Regions from separate parts of the Homo sapiens genome. Here all the other regions are linked to region 4. Evidence: fine-mapped expression QTL. A gene starts in region 4. Each other region holds a variant in brackets. All regions are shown on one strand. Distances are between the middles of the regions.

What was found.
Region 1: its variant is fine-mapped to the expression of XPO7 in whole blood (TOPMed, PIP above 0.99).
Region 2: its variant is fine-mapped to the expression of XPO7 in whole blood (INTERVAL, PIP above 0.99).
Region 3: its variant is fine-mapped to the expression of XPO7 in whole blood (TOPMed, PIP 0.96).

What each region holds. Positions count from the first base shown.
Region 1 is chr8:22,019,383-22,022,067 of GRCh38, forward strand. No RefSeq gene overlaps it. Among named protein-coding and RNA genes, the nearest start is that of NPM2, 3.4 kb to the right of the region's middle. The variant C/T (reference allele first, on the strand shown) is at 1,714.
Region 2 is chr8:22,027,405-22,030,089 of GRCh38, forward strand. All of the region lies in intron 5 of NPM2 (nucleophosmin/nucleoplasmin 2), which reads left to right. Among named protein-coding and RNA genes, the nearest start is that of NPM2, 4.6 kb to the left of the region's middle. The variant A/AT (reference allele first, on the strand shown) is at 1,081.
Region 3 is chr8:21,877,731-21,880,415 of GRCh38, forward strand. No RefSeq gene overlaps it. Among named protein-coding and RNA genes, the nearest start is that of DOK2, 35 kb to the right of the region's middle. The variant G/T (reference allele first, on the strand shown) is at 1,363.
Region 4 is chr8:21,918,168-21,920,852 of GRCh38, forward strand. XPO7 (exportin 7) reads left to right here and starts at 1,495. Exons shown (of 28, transcript NM_015024.5): 1 at 1,495-1,621. The coding sequence starts at 1,604. RefSeq lists a silencer at 1,412-1,851.

The sequences.
Region 1 (2,685 bases), 100 kb after region 4:
GAGATCGCGTCACTGCACTCCAACCTGGGCAACAGAGTGACACTCTGCCTCAAAAATAAATAAATAAATAGGCCGGGTGCGGTGGCTTACGCCTGTAACCCAGCACTCTGGGAGGCTGAGGCAGGTGGATCACCTTAGGTCAGGAGTTCAAGACCAGCCTGACCAGCATGGAGAAACCCCATCTCTCCTAAAAATACAAAATTAGCCAGGTGTGGTGGCACATGCCTGTAATCCCAGCTACTCCGGAGGCTGAGGCAGGAGAATTGCTTGAGCCCGGGAGGTGGAGATTGTGGTGAGCCGAGATCGTGCCATTGCACTCCAGCCTGGGCAACAAGAGCAAAATTCCATCTCAGAAAATAAATAAATAAATAAACAAATAAAACAAAACAATAAAATAAAAAGAAATTGGAAAAGAAGAAGTCAAATTGTCTCTCTTTGCAGACATGATCTTATGTATAGAAAAGCCTAAACAATCCACTGAAAAAACTCCTAGAACTGATAAACAAATTCAGTGAAGTTGCAAGATACAAAAATCAACATATGAAAATCAGTAGCATTTCTATACACCAATAATAAAATAGAAAAGAAATCAAGAAAGTGATCCCATTTACAAGAGCTACAAAAAATAAAGTCCCAAGGAATAAAAGTTAGCCAAGGAAGTGAAGGACCTCTACAACAAAAACTACAAAACACTGATGAAGGAAATTGGAAAGGTCACAAAAAAGTGGAAAGACATCCCATGCTCATGGATTGGAAAAATTAATATTGTTAAAATGGCCATACTACGGCTAGGCACGATGATTCGTGCCTATAATCCCAGCACTGTGGGAGGCCTAGGAGGGAGGATCACTTGAGCCTAGGAGTTCAAGACAAGCCTGAGCAACATAACGAGACACAACAAAAAAATTTTAAAAATTAGCCAGGCATGGTGGTACACACCTTGCAGTCCCAGCTACTCAGGAGGCTGAGGCAGGAGGATTGCTTGAGCCCAGGAGTTCAAGGTTACAGTGAGCTATGATTGTGCCTCTGCACTCCAGCCTGGGCAACAGAGCGAGACCCTGCCTGAAAAATAAATAAATAAATTTTTAAAATAAGAAATAAAAATAAAATTAAATTTAAAAGGCCATACTACCCAAAGCAATCTACAGATTCAGCGCAATCCCTATCAAAATAGCAACGACACTCTTCACAGAAACAGAAAAAACAATCCTAAAATTTGTATAGAATCACAAAAGACTCCAAATAGCCAAAGCAATACTAAGCAAAAAGAATAGAGCTGGAGGCATCACCCTACCTGAGTTCGAAATATACTACAGGGTGGGCAAGCACATGCCTGTAATCCCAACACTTTTGGAGGCCAACGTGGGTGGATCACTTGAGCAGAGGAGTTTGAGACCAGCCTGGACAACATGGAGAAACCCCATCTCTACCAAAAAAAAAATAGTAGCCAGGCATTATGGCACACACCTATAGTCCCAGCTACTTCAGAGGCTGAGGTGGGAGAATCACTTGAGTCCAGGAGGTGGAGGCTGCAGTGAGCTGAAATTGCTACTGTACTCCAACCTGGGACATAGAGCAAGACCCTGCCCCAAATATAAATATAAATATTATACACTACAAAGCTATAGTAACAAAACAGCATGGTATTGGTATAAAAACAGACACAGACCAATGGAAAAAAATGGAGAACCCAGAAATAAATCTATGTACTTA[C/T]CACAAACTGATTTTTTGACAAAGGCACCAAGAACATACACTGGGAAAAGGACATCTTCTTTAATAAATGGTGCTGGGAAAACTGGATATTGATAAGAAGAAGAAAAGTAGACCCCATCTGTCATCACATACAAAAATCAATTCAAAATGGATTAAAGACTTAAACATAAGGCCTGAAACTATAAAACTACTAGAAGAAATCCTAGGGGAAATGCTTCAGGACATGGGTCTAGGCAAAGATTTTATGGCTAAGACTTCAAAAGCACAGGCAACAAAAACAAAAATAGACAAATAAGACTATATTAAACCAAAAACGTCTGCACCGCAAAGAAACAGTCAACAGAGTTAAGAGACAACCTGCAGAATGGGAGAAAATATTTGCAAATTATTCATCTAACAAGGGACTAATATCCAGAATATACAAGGAATACAAATGACTCAACAGCAAAAAACAAACATAATATTAAGTGGGCAAAGGACATGAATAGACATTTCTCAAAAGAAAACAAATGGCCAACAGGCATACGAAAAAATGCTCAGCTGGGTGCAGTGGCTCACACCTGTAGTCCCAACACTTTGGGAGGCTGAGGTGGGCGGATCACAAGGTCAAGAGATCGAGACCATCCTGGCCAACAGGGTGAAACCCAGTCCCTACTAAAAATACAAAAATTAGCTGGGCATGGTGGCAAGCACCTGTAGTCACAGCTACTCGGGAGGCTGAGGCAGAATTGCTTGAACCCATGAAGCAGAGGTTGCAGTGAGTCAAGATCATACCACTGCTCTCCAGCCTGGTGACAGAGCGGGACTCCGTCTCAAAAAAAAAAAAAAAAAAAAAAAAAAAAAAAAAAAAAAAAGCTCAACATCACTAATCATCAGAGAAATGCAAATCAAAACCACAATGAGATATCATCTCACCTCAGTTAGAATGGCTGTTATCAAAAAGACAAATGCTGGCGAGGATGTGCAGAAAAG
Region 2 (2,685 bases), 110 kb after region 4:
TATTTCTGTAAACTCAACCTCTCTTGAGCTCCAAGTCCTATATCCAACTAAATGGCTTTGATAGATATCTAATAAATATCCCAAATTTAACATGTCTAAATCCACATATTCAATTTTTATCTCTAATCCACCCGCCTCCCCTTCAACCTGATTTTCTCTCAGAAAACAGCTGTTTTTCCAGTTAGCCAAGACAAAGCTCTTTTTTTTTTTTTTTCCCCTGAGATGGAGTTTCACTCTTATCACCCAGGCTGGAGTGCAATGGTGCGCTCTCGGCTCACTGCAACCTCCGCATCCCATGTTCGAGTGATTCTCCCATCTCAGCCTCCCAAGTAGCTGGGATTACAGGCATGTTCCACTACGCCAGGCTAATTTTTGTAATTTTAGTAGAGATGGGTTTTTGCCATGTTGGTCAGGCTGGTCTCGAACTCCTGACCTCAGGTGATATACCCGCCTTGGCCTCCCAAAGTGCTGGATTTACAGGCATGAGCCACCACACCCAGCCAAATCCTCTTTTTTCCCACACCCATATCTGATCTACCAGCAGTCCTGTTGTCTCTGCCCCCATCTTATACCCCAATGGACCACATCTCATCATCTTCCCTGCTACCCCTGGTACAGGTGACAGTTGCCTGTGGCTCCATTTTAATTGCACAGCCTTCCACCTGGTCTACCTACCATCACATGGTCCCCTGTAGTCTATTCCAGGGTAGGCAAACTAGAGGGCTTGAATCTAGGCTGCTGCCTGGTTTTGTAAGTAGTTTTACTGGGAACACAGCCACACTCATTCGTTTGTACCCTGTCCATGGCTGCTTTTCCTCCCTAACAGCAGATTTGAGTAGTCTCCATGGAGACCATATGGTTTGCAAACCTAAAATATTACCTTCTGGCTCTTAACAGAAAGTTTCCTGGTCTGTGCTCCACACAGCTGCCAAAAAGATTTTTTTTTTTTTTTTTTTTTTTTTTTGAGACAGAATCTTGCTTTGATACCAGGGCTGGAATGCAGTGGCTTAATCTCGGCTCACTGCAACCTCCACCTCCTTAGTAGCCGGGACAACAGGCGCTCCCCACCATGCCCAGCTG[A/AT]TTTTTTTTTTTTTTTGTAATTTTTAGTAGAGACGGGGTTTCACCATGTTGGCCAGGCTGGTCTTGAACTTCTGACTTCAAGTGATCCACCTGCCTCAGCCTCCCAAAGTGCTGAGATTATAGGCGTGAGCCACTATGCCCAGCCAAAAAGATCCTTTTAAACACAGGTTAGATCATGTGGCTTCTCTGCTAGAATAGTTAGGTCATGGCTCTCTCTCATTTGGAATAAGAGCCGAGAGTGTATTATGGCCTGCTTCGAAGCCTTTGTGTTCTGGCCTCAGCAACCTCTCTGTTTCAGGTGTGTTTTATGTCTTATGTTCCAGGTATGTATCTTTTACACAGTATGTAGCTAGATTTTGTTCTATCTGGCCAGTATAGTCTGTATTCATTGTGATTGCTGATGTAATTGGATTTGTGGCATGTACTTTGTACCCCTACTTTCCTTGCTTTTTTATTTTCTTCTCCTTTTCCTATATTTTATTAGATTAATTAAAGTTCCTTTTCCCCTTCTCTACTGGTTTGGAAGTTATAGAATCTCATTCTAATTTTTTTACTGTTTATCTTTAATTTTTTTAACAATCATACATTACTCAAAGTTTAGAATTAATGTTTTATGTCCTCCCAGACAATCCAAGGAGCTTTTCTGATTCTCCTTTTTTTATTTTTTTATTTTCGAAATGGAGTCTCACTTTGTTTCCCAGGCTAGAGTGCAGTGGTGCAATCTTGACTCACTGCAACCTCTGCTTCCCAGGTGATTCAAGTGATTCTCCTGCCTCAGCCTCCCAAGTAGCTGGGATTACAGGTATGCACCATCATGCCCAGCTAATTTTTGTATTTTTAGTAGAGACAGGGATTCACCACGTTGGCCAGGCTGGTCTTGAACTCCTGAGCTCAGGTGATCCTCCTGCCTTGGCCTCCCAAAGTGCTGGAATTATAGGTGTGAGCTACCGCACCTGGCCTGATTCTCATCTTTTTAACTTCAATATTATTATCAAGTGTTCTAGCTCCAACTTGTCAGCCTACTCAACACTACTCATTACTAGTACTATTGTATTTTCCAGTTAATTCTTATGTAGGTTTACTTTGTTTACCAATTAGTTTGGTTACCACTGCTTCTAGCACCCACTTCTTCCTTCTTGATCTAATTTCTTATCCTTTTTAGCAACATACTTTAGTAAGCCTGAGAATAGTAAACTTATTCAGGCTTTGTCTGGAAATATCATGATTTTGCCCTCATTCCTTCATGATGGTTTGGCTGTGTATATAATTCTAGATAGAGAGTTTCCTTCAGCTTTGAAGCTGTTCTATTCTGGTTCCCAATGTTGCTGTTGAAGTCCTCAATCTGTCTGATTATTCCCTTTTTGGAGATGTCTTTCCTCTCTGGCTTATTTTAAGATAATGTCTTTTGTTTTTATTTTCTATAGTTTTACCATGATGTGTTCAGGTGTAGATTTATTTTTTTTGTCTGTTCAGGACTTAGGTTTTCAGACATGAGGATCTATGTCTTTGATCAATTCTGGAAAATTATTGGTTGTTTTTCCTTTGAATATTGACTGTCTTCCAGTCTCCCTAGTCCCTTTTCCAATTAGATATATGTTGGGCCTT
Region 3 (2,685 bases), 40 kb before region 4:
TTCTCTGTTGAAGGAGAGGTGGCCTCCAGTGTGTAGGATTTCTCTGTTGAGAAGTACTTACAGGACCTGTCATTTTCAGGTCCTAGGCAATTTAGATGTCCAGAAAATCCTCCCAGTAAGGATTCATTAATTTTGAAATTCAAAATAAATGAATTTCGGAAATGCATAGCTGAGCTAGTAGAAAAGTAAGAAAAATCTTCAAAGGTCAAAAATCATTGCAAAGCCCAATCCCAGGAGGTAAGTGCCCAGTGAGGCCTGTGGTTGGGTGAGAGGCGATTGGATGATCCCTGTTGACCTGGAGCTTGGCTTTTAATATGGATTAACATGAAGGGAAGGGATTCAGAAGACAAAACCTGGAGAGAAAGATGAGAGACTGAAGAGAGAATTTTTTGTCTCACAATCAAAAATTACAGGACACAGCAGGCAGAAAATGAGAAGTGCCTACAGGGAAAAACCAAAGGGAAGAAGTTGCTGAAGTCAATCCTGAGAAATGAGAGTATAAGTAGCAATTAACAGTCACAGGACACTAACTGTGAGCTTGACCTGTGCTAAAGGCTTTACATAAACATATCTCTGTAACTTTTAACTGCACGTGAAACTAATCAATCACTGACTGGCTTAGCAATAAGCCTAAAATATCAGAATCGGAAAGGGCATTATCGACCACTTAATCTATTGTTTTTCAAACTGCAAGTCTTGCAACTTTTGGTTCAATAGATAGATTAGCATATAAATAATATGCATGGCCGGGCGCGGTGGCCCACGCCTGTAATCCCAGCACTTTGGGAGGCCGAGGCAGACAGATCACGAGGTCAAGAGATCGAGAACATCCTGGTCAACATGGTGAAACCCCGTCTCCACCAAAAATACAAAAATTAGCTGGGTGTGGTGGCGCGCACCTGTAGTCCCAGCTACTCGGGAGCCTGATGCAGGAGAATTGCTTGAATCTGGGAGGCGGAGGGTGCAGTGAGCCGAGATTATGCCACTGCACTCCAGCCTGCCAATAGAGCAAGACTCTGTCTCAAAAAAAAATAAAAATAAAAATAAATAAATAATATCCACACAAATATATATGCATAAATCTCTATGTGTGTATGTATATACACAAATGTATATGTGTATATATCCATATATACATGTACAAATATGAATGTATGTACTAGGTCCCAATGTAAAACACATGTCTCACTACAGATCAAAGTAAAAAATCAAATGCCAGCCAGGCGTGGTGGCTCACACCTATATTCCCAACACTCTGGGAAGCTGAGGTGGGTGGATCATTTGGGGTCAGGAGTTCAAGACCAGCCTGGACAACATGGTGAAACTTTGTCTCTACTAAAAATACAAAAATTAGCTGGGTGT[G/T]GTGGCACACGCCCATAATCCCAGTTACTGAGGAGACAGAGGCAGGAAAATCGCTTGAACCAGAGAGGTGGAGGTTGCAGTGAGCCGAGATCCTGCCACTGCTCTCCAGCCTGGGCTGTGACAGAGAGAGACTCTGTCTCAAAAAAATTAATAAATAAAAAGTTAATGAATTAATTAAAATTTAAAAACCAAATGCCTAGGAAGCATTGATAAAACCCCAAGCCATCAATGTCTTTTTTTTTTTTTTTTTTTGAGACGGGGTCTCGCTCTGTCGCCCAGCTGGAGTGCAGTGGCACAATCTCGGCTCACTGCAAGTTCCGTCTCCCGGGTTCACGCCATTCTCCCGCCTCAGCCTCCCGAGTAGCTGGGACTACAGGCGCCCACCACCACACCCAGCTAATTTTGTTTTTGTATTTTTAGTAGAGACAGGGTTTCACTGTGTTAGCCAGGATGGTCTCAATCTCCGGACCTCGTGATCTGCCTGCCTCGGCCTCCCAAAGTGCTGGGATTACAGGCATGGGCCACCGCGCCCGGCCCCATCAATATTTTTGTGGGAAACTGAGGCCCACAGAGAGTGCAACCAAAGTTGGTCACCTGGTTAGACCAGAGTCCAGATGATTGCCATTTCTCTCATGGTGGTAAGGTGGCACTGTGAGTCTTTACCATGCACAGCTCTGGGCCAGGATGCTCCCTCTGTGCCTCTTGTCAGGGAGGAGGGAAACCACAGAGTGAGTCTGGATCTGTACAAAACTGAGCATTAGACAGTTTGCTTTCAGTGCCTCCAACCCCGCAGTAGGGCCTTCTCCTTGCCCACCCCTTCTGCAGAAGCACCCACTACCCTCCGCTGTCTCTACTCTCCCACTACCAAGGCCTGGCATCAGGAAAGGATTTAGTAACCTTCTGCACACAAAGCTGGAAATTACTCCCATGCTATCTTTTCCATGATTATTTGGTCTTGTCGTGAAGGACTGAAAGTTTCAGCCAAAGACAAGAATTTCTCATTATGGAGTTTTTCCCTGGCTTCAGAAAACCAGCAGAGAAGGCATTTAGGCCCACAGTGGAGGAAACATGGGTGATCCTAGTGGGTGACGCAGGGGTTGGCCTTAGTCTTCTCTTATAATCCCCTCTTCTTTGACATGGAATCCTCTGGCCCTCTTACTTGCAAGGTTGATAAAGATAATAACAGATAAGATTGTGAATCTGAGGCCAGGCACAGTGGCTCACGCCTATAATCCCAGGGCTTTGGGAGGCCTAGGCAGGTGGATCACCTAAGGTCAGGAGTTCGAGACCAGCCTGGCCAACATGGTGAAACTCGTCTCTACA
Region 4 (2,685 bases):
CTGTGAAACTGTTACCTCTATTCAGTCCAGTAGGGAATCCAAAGAATTTCCATTGCAATTGTGACTCTGAGAATATTTCATTGCCCGATGCCAGGTTCAGAAAGCCACTGACCCCATCACCCCGCCTCTTTATACGCTCGGAGCTAATGATTGGACGCTGGGAGGTTTTGGGGAAAAACAAAAACCCAACATCTGAAAAGGTCTATGCTCGCTAGAAGTTAACAGTCAAAAGCTCTGCCACTTAAATCTTCTGCCTCTTAAATCTTCTCTGAGTCAGCCTAATTGGCAGAGCCTAATTTGCATACAGAACCCTAGCTGCAAGGAAGTTTGGGTAATGTAGTTTCCAGGTGCCCTACCTCTGCAAACCAGGAAGACCTACTAGGAGGACGGAAGTCGAAATGAATGCTGAGCACCGGTCCACTACATCCACCAAGGGTGTGTAATTCACTACCACCATCATTTGCATATGATGGTAGTCCCCTGTAAATACAAACTTCAAACAATCAGTGCTCTCAGAATCCAGCTATGATCTAACCTGGGGGCCTTAAAAGGAAGCCACAGTGGAATCCAATGGAAAACAGGAACCGGCATTATCTAACAGATAATTCCTAGTGAGGAAGACTGGAATTGGCCTCAGCATGCAGGGGCTGACCTTATCTGACCCAGAGAGATGGCTTTCCCACTCATACCTCCACAAGACCGAGCCTAGGGGTCCTAACCACCAGCCCCGCTGCCTCTTCCAGCATCTGACCCTCTCGGGAGGCAGTCTAGAGTATTGGCAACGAGGACAATGTCTTTGGGAAGCCAGAACTGTGCCTTCGTATGTTTTGATCATCACCACCATTCGGTGGTTATTTCCATGAATGTTTATCAAGGACGAAAGGACAGAAATGAAAAACACGAGATCAACCACTGGGGTTGCTGGTGAAATCCAGACCAGAGAGCGATGGCCCTGGTCCAGAAAGCTAGACAGACACAAGCACAGAATCGGCCCCCGTTGAGTAGAGGGCATTGGAAAGTAAGGAATCTCGCAGGCAGCCTAGGTGGGGTGTGGGGGGTCCCCGTAGCTGCAGGGTGGGGTGGGGGTGGGGGTGGGAGACGTCCAGGGGCGAGTCAAGGGGGAAGACGGTTGGGAAGAGAGGAAGCCACTGGGTGCAGGGGTCCCGGGGCGGCGACAGACCTCGGCCCCCATCCAGGAGCCCTCACCACGCAAACGAGCAGAAGGCAGCGCCAACTCCCACTCCAGCGCCCGCCTGCCGGAGCGAGCGCGGCCCCTTTAAAAACCATGTAAACAAAGCTTTGTTCCCCCAGCTGCCCCTCCTTCGCGCTCCCCCGGCCCGCTCCTTCCTCCCACCCGGCGTCTCCGGGCCGCTGACGTTGCCCGCGCCTTTACGCCGTCCCAGCGGTGCTGCGCATTCTCCAACCACGGCCCGGGCCGCCGGGGCCTGCGCAGCTGAGCGGCGCTACGCCACGAGCGCAGCGCGACGAGTCCCCAGCGCGCAGGCGCAGCGGCGACGGCGTCGGCGGCGGCGGCGGCAGCGGCTCCGGCCGAGGTGCGCGCTGGGGGGGAGGGGGGGCCGGAGAGGAGCATGAATGGAGCAAAATGGCGGATCATGTGCAGGTGAGAGGAGCCGCGGGGGGGAGGGGGCGACCACGAAGAGCGGCGAGTGGAGTCGGGGGTGCACACGGCCCACAGGGCGCCAGCCGGCTCGGGACTCGGCAGGCCCGCGCCGCCGCCACTCGGGGCTCTGGAGCCGCCGCCCGTCCCGGAGCCCCGGGGCCTTTCCCGCCTCCCGGGCCGGGGGCCTTCTCCGTCCCCTCCCACCCGGTCCCACACCTCGCGCGCGGGGCTGCAGGGACAGGAACGGGCATCCCGGCGCGCGCAGCCCACAACGTTCGTCAGTCACTGTCTTCGTCCCCGGGGGAGGCCTCCGTCAAGTCCTCGGGCCCCCCCGCCCGCCCCCCGGTGAAGCGAGGGGGACCCCCTTGCTGACTTTACTGAGGGGGACGCCCCCATGACGCCCGCCATCCCTCAGCAGATAACAAAAAGGAAACCTCGCGCTGATAAACCTCGCTCTCCGGAGTCTTTCCCGCCGCCTTCCTCTCACGCCCCGGAATACGAGAGACCCCCCAGCAACCCCGGCCTCCTTCCCCCTCCCACGGATGCGCCCTTCCCTCCGACACTCCAAATCGTACAGCCCGGAGGGCCGAGCTCCCCGGTCTTCCAAAATGGGTGCTCAGGCCTCGGCCCGCCTCCCCTCGCGTCCCCCTAGCCACAGTGAAGGAGTTGAGCGCCCACACCTCCTATGAAACACGGGGTGGAGGGGGGTGTGTCTGAAATGAGAGATGCAGGGTTGGGTGCAGACGTTGCTCGGGAGGGTCTTGATCCGGCTCAAGAGCTGCTCCTAGCGTGCTGTGGGGCCAGGCCACTCTCCTCAAAGACAGGCACAGGCCCTAGAAAGGGACAGCCCATACCAAACCCAGTAGCAGATGGAGGACTGCAGGGTTTAATTTCTTGCAAACTAGATAAAGTTTTTCCTGTCTGTGCCAGAGATCTGATATTTTTATGACAGTTATTGATGCACATCCATTGTGGGGAACCTTCCAATTTTCTAGGTAACCAAGTGCACAGGTTTTGTGTTGTGGCAAGGAAAGATTAGAGGGCAAGAAGTGTCGCCTTTATAT